Linked DNA regions of Homo sapiens: region 1 is linked to region 2. A link means that fine-mapping ties the variant in region 2 to the expression of a gene that starts in the linked region. Tissue or cell type: hypothalamus. Region 2 holds a variant in brackets; the other region holds the start of a gene. All regions are shown on one strand. Distances are between the middles of the regions.

The links. PIP is the estimated chance that this variant, and not a neighbour inherited with it, causes the effect.
Region 1: APOH starts here. The variant in region 2 is fine-mapped to the expression of APOH in hypothalamus (GTEx, PIP above 0.99).

What each region holds. Positions count from the first base shown.
Region 1 is chr17:66,225,353-66,233,352 of GRCh38, reverse strand. It overlaps APOH (apolipoprotein H), which reads left to right and starts at 3,938. Exons shown (of 8, transcript NM_000042.3): 1 at 3,938-4,037; 2 at 5,157-5,333; 3 at 7,229-7,325. The coding sequence starts at 3,974. RefSeq lists a silencer at 8-302.
Region 2 is chr17:66,771,005-66,779,267 of GRCh38, reverse strand. It overlaps PRKCA (protein kinase C alpha), which reads right to left. Exons shown (of 17, transcript NM_002737.3): 14 at 5,201-5,281. Among named protein-coding and RNA genes, the nearest start is that of MIR634, 12 kb to the left of the region's middle. The variant C/T (reference allele first, on the strand shown) is at 4,045.

The DNA.
Region 1 (8,000 bases), 550 kb after region 2:
TTCGGGCCCACACTGTGCACCCAGTTCTCATGTCCACCTGGGTTCCCTAAGTCTTTCTTTGCCTTTCATGGCTTTTGCCCTTTTGAAGATGACAGGGCAGTCATTTTGCATAACGTCCTTCAATTTGTGTGTGTACAGTGCCTTCTCATGACACAATCCAGGTTACTAAGCTTTTGGCAGGAATATCACAGAAGTGACGCTGTGTCCTTCTCATTGCATCCTCTTGGTGGAGGACATACATGCCAATTTATCCCATTAGTGGTGACATTAATTTTGATTACTTAATTAAGATGGTGTCTGCCAGGTTCTTCCCCTCTAAGTTTCTCTTTGTCTCCTTTATAATAAATAGTTATTTTATGTGGAGACATGTTTAAGGCTGTATGAACATTTCTCATCCTACTTGTATCCCCTGATTCTAGCATCAATTGATACTTCTTTGCCAGAATTAAATCGTTTCATAATTATTTCCAAATTACAATTCTCTAAGTCCAGTATTCCTCTATATTAATTGCTTGGCATTATACTCTAAGGAATAACTTTCTTATCTCTTCACATAATTGTTAATGTGTTTATTACTATCACTGTGGACTCACTGATTCCTATTTTATTCAGTGGAGTATAATCCATTACTATTATTACTTATTTGGACAAACTGTCACATATTTGACCAGAGAAAGCACCCCCCGCCCCCCGCTTTTTTTTTTTTTTTTTTTTTTTTTTTTTTTTTGAGATGGAATCTCACTCTGTCGCCCAGGCTGGAGTGCAGTGTCACGATCTTGGCTCACTGCAACCTCTGCCTCCCGGGTTCAGGTGATTCCCCTGCCTCAGCCTCCTAGCTGGCATAACAGGTACACGCCACCATGCCCTGCTAATTTTTGTATTTTTAGTAGAGACGGGATTTCACCATGTTGGCCAGGCTGGTCTCAAACTCCTGACCTCAAGTGATCCACCCACCTCGGCCTCCTGAACTGCTGGGATTACAGGCGTGAGCCACCGCACCCAGTCAAGAAAGCCACTTTCAAATGGCTTCTCTGTCCTTTGGACATGTCCCTATCATTCTCTGAGCATTACCTAAGTTGTTCAAGATGGTGTTCCAGGCTCATCTTGTACTTTTCCTTGACCCAGTTCAAGAATCAGCCAATTTTCTAAGGAGCTTTGGTGCCTTTCGATGGTGGATTGCATTTATTTATTTATTTAGATAGTGTCTCGCTCTGTTGCCTAGGCTGGAGTGCAGTGTTGCAATCTCATTGGCTCACTGCAACCCCTGCCTTCTGGGTTCAAATGATTATCTTGCCTCAGCCTCCCAAGTAGCTGGGATTACAGGCACCTGCCATCATGCCTGGCTAGGTTTTGTAGTTTTTGTAAAGACAGGGTTTCACCCTGTTGGCTAGGCTGGTCTTGAACTCCTGACCTCAAGCGATCTTTCTTTCTTCCTGAAGTGCTGGGATTACAGGCATTAGCCACCACGGCCTGGCCAAGAATTGCATTTAACAACCAATATTTAGGCACTGTGTGTGCTCATTGCTACTGGATGTACTACTGCTATTATCCTAGTGGACAGAACTAAGAATTATATGTATATTCAGGCATACATTCACACACATGTACATACCATTATATCTATATTGATTTCTGTATCTGTTTATATATACGCACAATTTGTACTGTCTCCATTTTCAATCCAACACCTCAAGGTTCATGCTAACTTTCCTTCTTTCCGCATTGTTACTTCTCTTGTTAGTGAGAAACCTGACCCCCATTATCCTCAATATATTTGCTTGTTTGCTCAATCTCCTATATGTAGCTAAGCTTGTGACACCATCACGCTGCCATCCTTACACAGATAAGCATGACTTTCCCCTTGAGGCCTTCCTTGTGACTTTTAGACTGAGTTAGGATGAAAAGAAGGAGGAAGGGAGGAAGAGAGGAAGGGAGGAAAGGAGAAAGAGAGGAAGGGAGGGAGGAAGGAAGGAAGGAAGGGAAGAAAGGAGGGAGGGAGGAAGGGAGGGAAAAAGGGAGGGGAGAAGGGAGGGAAGGAAGGAGAAGGGAGGGAGGGAAGGAAGAAGGGAGGGAGGGAAGAAGGAGGAAAGGAGTGCATAGTTTTCCAATTGAAGTATAATCAAGTAAACACACAGATCTTAAATATTTGGCTTGATGGCTTTTGAAAATTGCATGTAGCCAAGTAACAACCACCTAAAATAGAATATAAACTATTTCGACACCCCTACCCCAAGTTTCCTAATGCAAGGGAGCCCAGCCACCAGGAAACATCATTAAAAACCCTTCTCCTTGTCCTCTCTCAATATCAGGCACTCAGTTTGTAGCTGTTGCTGAAAATATTCTCGTCTCAATTTTAACCTTTTCTCAAATTTTCTTTAACTGATGCCCGACCTCTTTGGTTTCTCTCTCCTTTTCCCCTTCTACTTCAGATCTTACTATACAGAACGACTTGGCTCCTCCTGACTTCATTAGTTTTCTTTCTTCTTCATTCATCAAGGAGATTCTCCACAATAAAGCGGAACCTGGGAATTATCCAGAGAACAAGAATCTCCTTCCCCTTAGAAGGACAAATAGGGAAGGACCACTGTTATTTCACATTAGTGGCAGCACACTCTTCTTATCATGGAACACAATGTTCATTAGGATCGTAATTTAAGAATCATCTGCCTGACAGATGGAGATTTCTCAAGCTGATGTGTCTCAGGGAATTTTAGACCTCTGGATATAAACCAAGATCACCCAAATGAGAGCAAGCGGAGGTTATTTATTCAGAGCTTGCTATAGGAAGGGAGGCAGCCATTAACAGTTGTGTTTGGCAGAGACTCAAAGTCAAAGTCAGACAGAGGAGTGGGAAAGCTTTATAATAGAAAAAAGGAAAGGCTTCAGGTGTGCTCCAACGGATTGTTGGTATGGGGAGGATGGAAGGAAACTAACTAGAAGTGAGGTGTCCATGTGATTGGTTAGAGAAATATGTTTGGATTTCTCTGGTTGGCCTTAAGTTGGGCCAACTGCTATAGAGGTTGTAGGTTTGGCTTTCTAGACCTGTTGCTACAGATGTGTGGGTCAGAGTTCTGTTTTCACATATGGCCTGGCTATTGTCCATTTATATATCCTTTTTTTTTTTTTTAGAGCAAATGATGTAGAAGAGAACTAGGGAATCAAAGACAACCCCCCTTCCGAACCCTCTCAAGCAACAACATCAGCACTGGCCCATTATCTTATCCTACTCAAGTTTTTTTTTCTTCTTCGAGTCCCAAGTTGTTAATTTCAAATCAATTTTCAAATTCCTGAAACAGATCTAGAAACCTGTCTAGACAGATCCAAGACATATTAAGAATGGATGAGGAGGACTTTGTATTGATCTGACGTAAGAGAAGATAGAGAATTCAAGGATAGCTCTAAGGTCCTAACTGGAGCTATAGGAGCTTGCAAGAGAGGATGTTGAGCTCAGTTTGTAGGGAATTAAAGTTGTAAGTGCCTCCTGGAAGACATTCTTTGTAATTATACATCTGAAAACTGGAACATCATTTTAGAGAGGTGGAGACTGAGAACAGAGAGTAGGTGTTTGTCCAAAGTTTATATGCCAAGGCTGTGAGTGAAACAGGAGCTTCGATCTTTTGGTGTTCCATCTACAACATACACAAAACAAAAGATGGAGAATGAGAAGTCCAGGCAACCCCGGAAACAACAAGTTTCTGTCAAAAGCAATAATGAACTGTTTTGTGCCATTAACAAAAACGTTATGAAGACAGAAACCATCTCCCAAAGATTTCATAACAGAGCCACATAAGTGGAAAGTAAATGATTAAAGAATGTGGGTCTCAGAGTTCCATTCAAATCATGATACTTTATCTTCTATTTACAAAGATAAAAGTACACCAGAAAATGGTTAATGTTTAAGCGCTTTCATATTTGGCTCTGTCTTTTTAGCAGACGAAAACCACTTTGGTAGTGCCAGTGTGACTCATCCACAATGATTTCTCCAGTGCTCATCTTGTTCTCGAGTTTTCTCTGCCATGTTGCTATTGCAGGACGGAGTAAGTACTTTTTGCTTTTGAAAAAATAATTAATATATCCAACCCCTTCGTATATGTCAGGGATCAATAATGATAAGTAGGCCGGGCGTGCTTGCTCACATCTGTAATCTCAGCACTTTGGGAGGCCAAGGCAGGTGGATCACCTGAGGTCAGGAGTTCGAGACCAGTCTGGCCAACATGGTGAAACCCCGTCTTTATGAAAAATACAAAAATTAGCTGGGCATCATGGCCGAGGTGGGCGAATCAGTTGAGGTCAGGAATTCGAGCCCAGCCTGGGCAACATAGTGAAACCCTGTCTTTACTAAAAACACAAAAATTAGCCGGGCGTGATGGCAGGCGCCTGTAATCCCAGCCACTCGGGAGGCTGAGGCAGGAGAATTGCTTGAACCTGGGAGGCAGAGGTTGCAGTGAGCCGAGGTCCCCCCATTGCACTCCAGTCTGGGCAACAAGAGCAAAACTCAGTCAACAATAATAATAATAAGAAGAAGAATAATTAAATTCTTTTTTTTTTTTTTTGAGACAGAGTCTCGCTCTGTCGCCAGGCTGAAGTGCAGTGGTGCGATCTCGGCTCACTGCAAGCTCCGCCTCCTGGGTTCACTCCATTCTCCTGCTTCAGCTTCCCGAGTAGCTGGGACCACAGGCGCCCGCCACCACACCCGGCTAATTTTTTGTATTTTTAGTAGAGACGGGGTTTCACCGTGTTAGCCAGGTTGGTCTCTATCTCCTGACCTCGTGATCCACCCGCCTCAGCCTCCCAAAGTGCTGGGATTACAGGTGTGAGCAACTGCGCCCAGCTGATAACTAAATTCTCTTTAGAGTGGATGCTGGAGGGACTGGATTGATACTGATTCTTTAATATTGCCATGTGTAAAGCTCCTCTGTAAGATACGTAGCCAATTTAAGCCTCAGCATACTGACCTGTAAAATGGGGATAATTATAATACCTCCTTCAAATGGTTGTTGAGGGGATTAGATGAGATAGTGTATATGAGGTATTTGGCATGCAACTTGGTATGCTTATAATTGGTAACAGTACACACATTTTTCATTTGTGGGCTTAGCTGAACTTTAAAATGCAAATAGAGATTTGTTAACCATCTGCTTTGTGCCCTCTTTCAGCCTGTCCCAAGCCAGATGATTTACCATTTTCCACAGTGGTCCCGTTAAAAACATTCTATGAGCCAGGAGAAGAGATTACGTATTCCTGCAAGCCGGGCTATGTGTCCCGAGGAGGGATGAGAAAGTTTATCTGCCCTCTCACAGGACTGTGGCCCATCAACACTCTGAAATGTACACGTAAGTCAGTACCTTCTCTCACATTCTCTTCCCTCATTTGGATTCTGGGTATTTTGGAGGAATAAGCTACCTCGTCATGCTCAGAGTGCAGAGGGCCAGTAGATGCTGCAGAAAGCCAGGTTGGAGAGAAATGAGAAGGTCTTGGGGAGTTCTCTCTGTGCAAAGAGAGTAAGGGTAATAGGTGCTATTGATAGAAGAGGAGAAGATCATAGCCTGAAACTAGGGTAGGTTTAAAAATGAGATCTGGTGTGGCAAAAGGAGAAAGAAACACTACAGAAGTTAAAAGAACAGTGGAGAGGCTTTGAAATGTCAACTGATGCCAAAGAGACATTTGGAAAAACAAAATTTGGGGAATCATCATATCTTTGGACTTCACCTGAAAATGAAAGCGGACTTAATAGTTACTGAAATGAATACAAATTTCATCTACATTATGTATATATTATATTATAATGAAATACAAGAAAAGAGGTCAAATTAAAATAATAATATAACGTAAAATATATCAATCTCACTATGGCTTTACTGTAAATGGTTGCTTTTATTTATTTCTTAGAACATGGTTCTATGATATCATGCTAGCATTATTCTTTACAGTCAAGTATTATGCAATCAACCAGATTGAATTTATGGTACATTTAATTATATGTAGAAGTTAAGCAGTAAAAATAGATGTATGGATCTGGTGATTTTGGTTATATGAACAGGACCTTTGTCAAAGTTATGCATGTTCATGCAAGTTGATTTTACTATGCTTTTTTGCTTAAAGAGCCTAAACATAATTTTTAGTAAAAAGCCAATGTAACATCATTAGGGAAAATTTTTCTTTAAATCAGGGCCAGGTGCGGTGGCTCACACCTGTAATCCCAGCGCTTTGGGAACCTAAGGTGGGTGGATCGCCTGAGGTCAGGAGTTCAAGACCAGCCTGGCCAGCATGGTGAAACCTCGTCTCTACTAAAAATAAAAAAAATTAGCCGGGCATGCTGGCATGCGCCTGTAGTCCCAGCTACTCAGGAGGCTGAGGCAGGAGAATCACCTGGGAGGCAGAGGTTGTAGTGAGCTGAGATTGTGCCACTGCACTCCAGCCTGGGCAGCAGAGTGAGACTCTGTCTCAAAAAAAAAAATAAATAAATAAATAAAATAAAAATCAGCTATAACTCTGGAACACTAAAAATTTCATTTTTTTATTTTCCATGCATATCTTTTTGCATTACTGCAGAGAGCAGGTATAATTTTGTATTTTTCTGTTTTCATCAGCATATCATAAAAATTGTATCTCCACATATTTCACAATTCATATTTTATTGGCTACATAATAGTTCAACTTTTGATTTACCATGATTAATTAAAACAGTCCCCTGATGAACCCTTAGACTATCCAATTTTTTTTTTTTTTTTGGAGACGGAGTCTCACTCTATTGCCCAGTGCAGTGGTGCCATCTTGGCACCCTCTGCCTCCTGGGTTCAAGCTATTCTCCTGCCTCAGCATCCAGAGTAGCTGGGACTACAGGCACCCACCATCATGCCCAGCTAATTTTTGTATTTTTAGTAGAGATGGGGTTTCACCATGTTCAGGCTGGTCTCAAATTCCTGACCTCAAGTGATCCACCCTCCTCTGCCTCCCAAAGTGCTGGGATTACAGGCGTGAGCCACTGCTCCCCGCCTGTCCAAATTCTGTTATTAGGAGAAACAGTATAATGAACGCTTTTGTACATATATCACTTGTCTTATTTTGAATTGCTTTCTTAGAATAGTTACCAGTAAAGTTATTGAACCAAAGGATGAAAATGAATTTATATGTTTCATTTAATGAAAAATTCTATAAATAGAAATTTACCTGTTTATGTTTTTTTTTAGCCCAAAGAAAAGTAACATTTTTTATCTTTGTATCACAGCCAGAGTATGTCCTTTTGCTGGAATCTTAGAAAATGGAGCCGTACGCTATACGACTTTTGAATATCCCAACACGATCAGTTTTTCTTGTAACACTGGGTAAGAACTTTCATGGAACTAAGCAGTTAACAGACTGAGCACATTTTTGTATCCTTAAGCTAAACATCAAGACTGGTCTATATTTTGTTTTCAGCCTTTAGGTTGGACTTTCAAATGCAAATCGATTTTAGTCCTGCTTTTTTTTTTTTTTGAGACGGAGTCTCGCTCTGTCGCCCAGGCTGGAGCGCAGTGGTGCAGTCTCGGCTCACTGCAAGCTCCACCTCCTGGGTTCACACCATTCTCCTGCCTCAGCCTCCTGAGTAGCTGGGACTACTGGCGCCCGCCACCACGCCCGGCTAATTTTTTGTGTTTTTAGTAGAGACGGGGTTTCACTGTGTTAGCCAGGATGGTCTTGTAGCATTGAGGGTGGGGTAAGGATTGGAGAATATAACAACTAGTGCAATACGTAGTCACCACTGTATCTAATTTTTCTGCTCCTGATTAATTATCTCAGAGGAGGTACATTAAAATGATTGAACCTGGATGATAATTCCATATGATCTCTGGGCCAAATCTTGGATAGGGTTAAAATACTTTAGGAATAAGACTTGGGCTTTAGTTATTAGGCTAATTTGATTGACCAACCTGGTAGTCTCTAGAAGAGAATTCTATGGAGAAGGTTGGGAGTGTGACAGTGGAGAATGCAATGCAGTTCCACATCCCCAGGAAGCAATC
Region 2 (8,263 bases):
TAAAGCAAATGAGAAGAAAATGGCAATAAACTATTTTTTTCCTGCTCATCTTCAGCCCTCTGCGATTAAAGAGGACAAACTTAGACCAAAACCCTGTCAACGACTTTATCATTAATCTTACTTTTCAATAACAACATCTATTCCGTTTGCTGGGTCTCTGGGATTGCTGAAGCTTGGAGGGGCTGTGGATAATACTGGGTAGAGCCTTCATTATCCTTTCTGAGCTGAGTGACAGCCTAGGAATACATTTAAATTTGCATTGAGGAGTCAGAGAGAAAGATGAAGAAGGGGATTTGAATGAAAACACTGTGTTTGAGGCGGGTGAGGTGGAGATTTAGAGGAACAAAGGCTGTTATCTGTGCCTGCCATTGCACCAGAATGTGGAGTGCCTTTAAGGAGTTGTTGTTTTTTTTTTTTTTTTTGGAGACAGGGTCTCACTCTCTCACCCAGGCTGGAGTGCAGTGGTGTGATGATCACAGCTCACTGCTAGCCTTGACCCCCCGGGCTCGATCAATCCTCCCACCTCAGCCTCCTACGTAGCTGGGATGACAGGCACTTGCCACCACGCCCAGCTCATTTTTGCATCTTTTGTAGACGGGATTTTGTCATGTTGCCCTGGTCTCGAACTCCTGGACTCAAGTGATCCACCCACCTTGGCCTCCCAAGGGCCCCAAAGGGATGAGCCACTGCACCTGGTCTAAGGTGTCATCTTTAAAGAATATCACCGTTTTCTTTTTTTCTTTTATTTTTTTGAGATGGAGTCTCGCTCTGTCGCCCAGGCTGCAGTGCAGTGGCGCGATCTCGGCTCACTGCAAGCTCCGCCTCCCGGGTTCACGCCATTCTCCTGCCTCAGCCTCCCGAGTAGCTGGGACTACAGGCGCCCGCCACCACACTCGGCTAATTTTTTTTTGCATTTTTAGTAGAGATGGGGTTTCACTGTGTTAGCCAGGATGGTCTCAATCTCCTGACCTCGTGATCCGCCCGCCTCGGCCTCCCGAAGTGCTGGGATTACAGGTGTGAGCCACCGGGCCCAGCCATCACCGTTTTTAATAGAGATGATGGAGACCTGAAAGTATGCATATAAGGCAGGCTAAGTGGCTCTGAGAAGCAGTGTGGGAAATATTGGAAACAGGCCAGAAAGTTTGCAGAACTATTGAGAGCTGGAGCCTGGTGCTCTCCAGGGGGCGTGAGCTTAGTAGGGAAACCTTTAAATAAGGCCTGTAAATCACCTCAGGCCAATTTGCAAATGAGGTCTGAGGCCAGTGTGGCAGAGCTTCAAAATGCACCCCCCAAAGGGGACTTCTCTGCCAGAAGAAAGCATTCCCTGAGTTCTCCCCTAGTGAATGAGATCCCAGGAAGGCTTGGAGAGGGGAGAAGCCAGGCTGCGGGAGGGAGGAGGACTTTCCTGCAGACCTGGGTTCTGAAATTCTTGTCTCCTGCTGGCCAAGAGTCTACTCACGTGACCTCTTGTAAAGCGCCCTCGGAAACAGATCCTGGCTTCGTTTCCGCCCAGCCCCTTTTGCATGTTAGCATATGCAAATGTGACTCTTAATGAAAGCAGGGTTTGTTTTCCAGACTCAAGAGCTGAACATTCAAGTGGGATCAAGAGGGGGACTTGGCTTTTTGTGACTTCATGAAAAGCAGGACTCTTAGGGGGCCTGTAATTCAGAGCCGAATTTTACTGTAAAAATTTTAAAGAGGGGGAAATTAACTTGAGGAGCAGACAACTCCTGTTTCTCCAGCCATTGACTCACTGATGGTGACTGTGTACGAACTGCCTTTCTGTGTTTACACCCGGACGTATTTGGCCTAAGAGGAATGCTTTGATTTGGGGTGGGGGGAGGGGAACTAAATAAATAATAAACCACTCTTTTGATGTCAGTCAAGCCTTAACACCATTGAGAAATAATGATCAAATGCAGGCTAAAGCTTTATGTCTTTCAATGTCTACAAGACCATTTCAGTATTTAGGAAATATAATGAAAGACACATAAAGGAGAGATCATCCACAGCCTCCCATCCTAGAGGCAAAGCCGCTGATCTGGAGATGACGTTCATGGTCACAGTGTTACAACAGGTGGCTGTTCGGACATGGGCAGGGCAGGAGAGGGCTCCCCCTACCCACCAGGAATGTCAGGCGACCATCAGGTGGTTAACTCTCTCTCTGTAAAATAATAATTGGTCGCAGCCAGCACCAAGGAAAGGCAGTCTCCCAATAAAGGGAAACACCTGAAACTGGTGAGCAGCAGCTTCCCAATAAGATTTCAGGAGTTGGGCGAGTGGGCTCAAGCACGCGCATGAAAAGGCAACATGGCGGAGTTTAACTGGTACACCACCTTCTAGGACATCTGACTGGTAAGGGAAGAATGCCTCAGCTGAGCACACACGTAACTCCAGTAAACACACTGCACATGCCGCCCCTCCCAAGCACTAGCAGGCCACTGCGCACGCAGACAGCCCAACCCAAGGGAAGAATCAGGGGAGAAGAGATGTAAGACCCTGGAAGAACACCAATGCATAAAACCCCAAGTCAAAAGTCAAAGAGTGCACTAGATCTCTCAAGTCGCCGGCTTGGCCCTCTTCCAAGTGTACTTTACTTCCTTTTGCTCCTGCTTGAAAGCTTTTCCATGAACTTTCATTCCTCTCTAAAACTTGTCTTAGGCCAGGTGCAGTGGCTCATGCCTGTAATCCCAGCACTTTGGGAGGCTGAGGCGGGTGGATCACGAGGTCAGGAGCTCAGGACCAGCCTGGCCAAGATGGTGAAACCCCGTCTTTACTAAAAATACAAAAATTAGCCAAGCGTGTTGGCAGGTGCCTGTAATCCCAGCTACTAAGGAGGCTGAGGCAGAAAATTGCTTGAACCTGGGAGGCGGAGGGTGCAGTGAGCTGAGATCGCGCCACCGACTCCAGCCTGGGCAACAGAGCAAAACTCCATCTCAAAAACAAAACAAAACAAAACAGAAACAGCTTGTCTTAGGCTCTCACTCTACCTGATGCCCCACAGTCAAATTCTTTCTTCTGAGGAGGCAAGAACTGAGGTTGCTGCAGCCTCATGGGGATGCACCACTGCTAACAACAGGATCCAGAGCCTCTTCCTCTCTGGCCTCAGGCCTCCTACTCCCTCCCTCTCTAGCTCAATTCTGCTCTAGCCCTGCTGGGAGCTTCCATTTCTTAAACGTGGCTGCACATTCCCTGGCCTTAGGGCCTTCGCGTGGTGGCTCCCTCTGCCTGGAATGCCCTTTCAACAGATATGCACACAGACAACCCCATACTTCCTTTAGGTCTTAACCTTATCCTCTCTGGCCAATTTCAACCTCCCCCAACACTATCTTCTTTCCTGCTTTATTACTTTTCTTCCTAGCTTACCTCTGCTGTGTTATACATTTTCCTTATCTAACCTGTCTGCTGTCTCTCCTCCTCTAAGCTGTAAGCTTCACGAAGTTAAGGATTCTCGTCTGTTTTGTTCATCCTTATGGCCATGCACATTGTAAGCATTCAGTGAATAAATACGTGGTGAGTGAATGAATAAATGAGTCAATGGACGTAACATGTGGGAAGGGAAGACTTTTTCCCCAGAAACAAAGATGTCTTTGGGGGTGGCTCTGTCGCACAGCATGGCCATCTCTTTCCATTGTCTCTGACTAAGGCTTCTGGCTATGGAGAGTCACAGGTCTTGGCACTAGCATGTGAGTGCTGGGAATTATAAAAAGCTGCCCACGGCAGAATCATGTTTAGTATAAGGCAGAGATCTGCTGGGTGATTACCAAGCCTGCTTCGTGATTACCAAGCCTGCTTCCCCTGCTGAGCTCTCAGATATGCTATACTTCCTGCCTCTTTGTGTCCCACTGGGGCCAAGTGGCCAGTGGAACCTAGGCAGAAGTGATACATGCCATTTCTAGGCCGGCCCCTAAGATATCCTATGTAACTGATCTGTGCTCGGCTGAAAGGAGGAGGAATTAGCGGAGAAATCTGAGACCCTAAAAGGTAGTAGGGCTGACGGACAGGAGAAACCTGTGTCCTTGAATGAACCTGTGGGTCAGTGCC[C/T]CACCCCCACATGGGACTTTGCCACGGAAGTGTCCTATGTGGGGGTGGGCACTGACCACAGGGTCATTCAAAGACTCAGGCTTCTCGCATCCATCAGCACCACCATCTTGTAGGGTCTCAGATTTCTCCACTAATTCCTCCTAATTTCAGCCTAGAGCATGAGGACAGTCATAAAGGATGTCTTAGGGGCCAGGCCTAGAAGTGGCAGATAGTACGATTCACCCTGATGACACAGATATTAAGGCCATTATATTAGAAAGTGCCATGTTAGGCAATAAGGCACATGGTTATCTGGTACATGTCACATCATAAGAGAAAGCTAATTTACCTTCCTTAACTGGATGTTCAGCCTCACTGGACTTCAGTGAAAATTACAACGAATTGCCAAGGGTGAGATAGGAGGAGATGGGGAGAAACTATTAAAACACTTCTTCAAGGTAACTGTCTTCTTCCTTAAATAATAATACTAATTACACACATTGGCAGCAGCTGGGGCAATCTTTGCAGACAAACTTGCAGGGAACCATATAACCCAACCCCAGTTTTAAGATACTGAAAACTTAGAGGCCACTGCTGTCATCAACGTGCACATTTTTTTCTTTTTTGAGACCGTCTCACTCTGTTGCCCAGGCTGCAGTGCAGTGGCACGATCTTGGCTCACTGCAGCCTCCGCCTCTCAGGCTTAAGCAATTCTCATGCCTCAGTAGCTCAAGTAGCTGAGTTTACAGATGTGCACCACCACGCCTGGCTAATTTTTGTATTTTTAGTAGAGATGGGGTTTCGCCATGTTGGCCAGGGTGGTCTCGAACTCCTGACCTCAGGCGATCCGCCTGCCTTGGCTTCTGAAAGTGCTGGGATTATAGCCATGAGCCACCGCGCCTGGCCAACATGTACATTTCATAACGTGAAACTGACACTGTCTACACTCCAGGTTGTAGCTTTCAATTTGGAGTTTCTATGACCAGAGATAATTTCTGTGCATACTGAACGTGATCCACTTTGAAGGGGGCGTTTCTCCCTCTTTCGCCTGGGTCAGGGAAGTCACGCCAACACCAGCTGCACTAAAACGTCAGGTCTTGCTCTCGAGGCCCAACCAGAGCTGAAGTATTCACATAACACAGCAATAAACAAACATGAAAATGTAGCAAAACATTACCTGCCCGGCAAGCATTTCATACAACAGGACGCCATAGGCCCACCAGTCCACAGATTTTCCATACGGCTGATAAGCGATTATCTGTGTGAAAACAAACACATCAATTACATTAGTGGTAAGTCCAATAGCCCCTGTCAGAACAGGTAAGTCAAGCAGGTAGGCATTTATACACTCAGTTCATGCAGATGAGGTGCTAAGATCTGTCTTTGATGTTACGCCAAGGGAAGAGGACCCTTCAAATCAGACACACGGAGAACTATCACCCCGTGATTCACTGCCCACGGCTGGTTTGGGGAATCTTGTTCTGAATCCACCTGGAGATGCCACAGCACTGTCTGAAGGTAGTTTTAATTATCCTCCCTGGCAGAAAGTATGTGGACACTGAGGTGGATTTAATTTTGAGAAAAAGCCAGAGGCCGGGTGCAGCAGCTCACACCTCTAATCCCAGCACTTTGGGAGGCTGAGGCAGGAAGATTGCTTGAGTCCAGGAGTTTGAAACCAGCTTGGGTGACATAGTAAGATCCTGTCTCTATTAAAAAAAATTTTTTTAATTAAAAAAAAAAAAAAAAAAAGGAAAAGCCAGAGGTCATTCAGAGTTTGAGTCTGACATATAAGATGATCAAACTATGTAACAGGGCTTTACTAAGAGTATAATAGTAAGGATGATGATAAGGAAACATTATAGTTTTCTTGTGTTGCACAGAGAAGTGCAATGATATACATTCAGTCTATTGAAAAACAGAAGTTTTAAAACACTTTTTAAAAGACATAAAATATAGTAAGCAAATATAGTATCTAGAGCCAACTGCAACAAAGAAAATTTGAAACAACTGGGAAAATTAAGATACAATCTGGATGTCAGATGATACTGAGGACTTACCATTCATTTTGTTAGGTGGCATAATGGTATGTTGACTAGTTAGAAAACATGTTTTCTGGCTGGGTGTGGTGGTGTGAGTCTGGAGTCCCAGCTACTTGGGAGGCTGAGGCAGGAGGATCACTTGAGCCCAGGAGTTTGAGGCTAGCCTGGGCAACGTAGCAAGACTCTGTCTCTTAAAAAGTAATAATACTATTAAAACATTTTTAAAGTGTGCTTATCAGTTAGAAATGAGTATATTTATGGGTGAAATAGAAAAGAGATAAAGTATTTATGGGTGAACTGACATATCTTAAATTAAAAAAAAACACTTCAATAAATGAGGTGGGAGAAAAATAAATGAAATGAGTTGGCAAATGCTGGCAGCTGTTGAAATTGGTGATGGGTCCACAGGGAGCTCATTCTACACTTCCTTCTACCTTTGTGGCTATCAGAAGTACTAGAATAATTCTATAACCTCCCTTCGTGGAAGGGAGTAACATGGATTTGAATTTCTAAGTATGGCAGGGCTTATTAAAACACTGGCTTCATTACCTCTCAGGTACGCTGTGTACCTGCTGCACACAATTCCCAGACCCATGGATCACATGCCAGGATTCAAGGTCAAGACACACTAACAGGTACTCAGCATAACCATTCTGCCATTTCGCTTACAACTTTTACTTTGAAATGTTCTGGGATTTTTTTTTTTTAATGGCCCAGAATGTCTAATTAAATGTCCTCGGACATAAAACTTTCTGCATGTCTGCCCACTTTCATTTCTTTAATGTATTACTAATATTTCTGCATGTAGGATGAGAAACACAAGCACCAACAGTTTAAGTGTGGGCAGTAACAAGGGTAAACAAGATTAGATCTGGCACCTTTGTAGCTCATTTCCTTGACAAGAAAATGATATAAACATAGGAACCTACAAGGAGTCTCTAATTTCTTTTACAACCTTTGTTCTGCACATTCTTTTCTGAAAACTTGGAAAATACACACATAAGAAACCCCAAGAAATGAGTCTCCAGTCTATTACCCGGGGATGATACATCTCATTCCAGTTCCCAGACAAAATTTTGCATCAAAGGAGTTGCATATTTTTATAACCTTTGATACAATGGTAAATTGCTCTCCCAAAAGGACTGGACTGAATTTATCTCCCTGATACCAATGTCATTATATTTTCCATTACCAGGTAAAACCATTCTGTTAAAAATAATCTTTTTGTGCTTTTAAAAAAAATTCCAGAAGCCATGCATGCTCATTAAAGAACAATTAGGAAGAAAATGAAAAGCTAAAGAAATAAGGAAGCGGCGGGCGTGGTGGCTCATGCCTGTAATCCCAGCACTTTGGGAGGCCAAGGCGGGTGGATCATGAGGGTCAAGAGATGGAGACCATCCTGGACAACATGGTAAAACCCTGTCTCTACTATAAATACAAAAATTAGCTGGGCATGGTGATGCCTGCCTGTAGTCCCAGCTACTTGGGAGGCTGAGGTAGGAGAATCGCTTGAACCCGGGAGGTGGAGGTTGCAATGAGCCAAGACTGCATACCACTGCACTCTAGCCTGGGCAAGAGAGCGAGACTCCGTCTCAAAAAAAATAAAAAAAAAGAAATAAGGAAGTAAAATTGTTTATGATCACTATCCAGAAATATTAATGTTATTTCCATATAAAACCTTTCCATATTTTTTTCTAGGTGTGATATGTGTGTACATATGCATTAAAAACTGAATTATGTGAGCCTGCTATTTTGTGGTCAGTTTGTTTATTTAATAATATATCATGAGTATCTTGGCAAGACCTTTGACTATTTCTGCAAAATAAATTCCTGTCAATAGAATTGGTGGGTCAAAATAAATGCTTCTAACTCAAAAGTAAAACTTTTTAAGACACATTGCTGGCCAGGGGCAGTGGCTCACGCCTGTAATTCCAGAACTTTGGGAAGCCGAGGTGGGTGGATTACTTCAGGTCAGGAGGTTGAGGCCAGCCTGGCCAACATGGTGAAACCCCGTTTCTACTAAAAATACAAAAAAGGTAGCCAGGTGTGGTGGTGCATGCCTGTAATCCCAGCTACTCGGGAGGCTGAGGCAGGAGAGTTGCTTCAACCCATGAGGCAGAGTATAGTGAGCCAAGATCGCCCCCACTGCACTCCAGCCTGGGCGACAGAGTGAGATGCTGTCTCAAAAAAAAAAAAAAAGA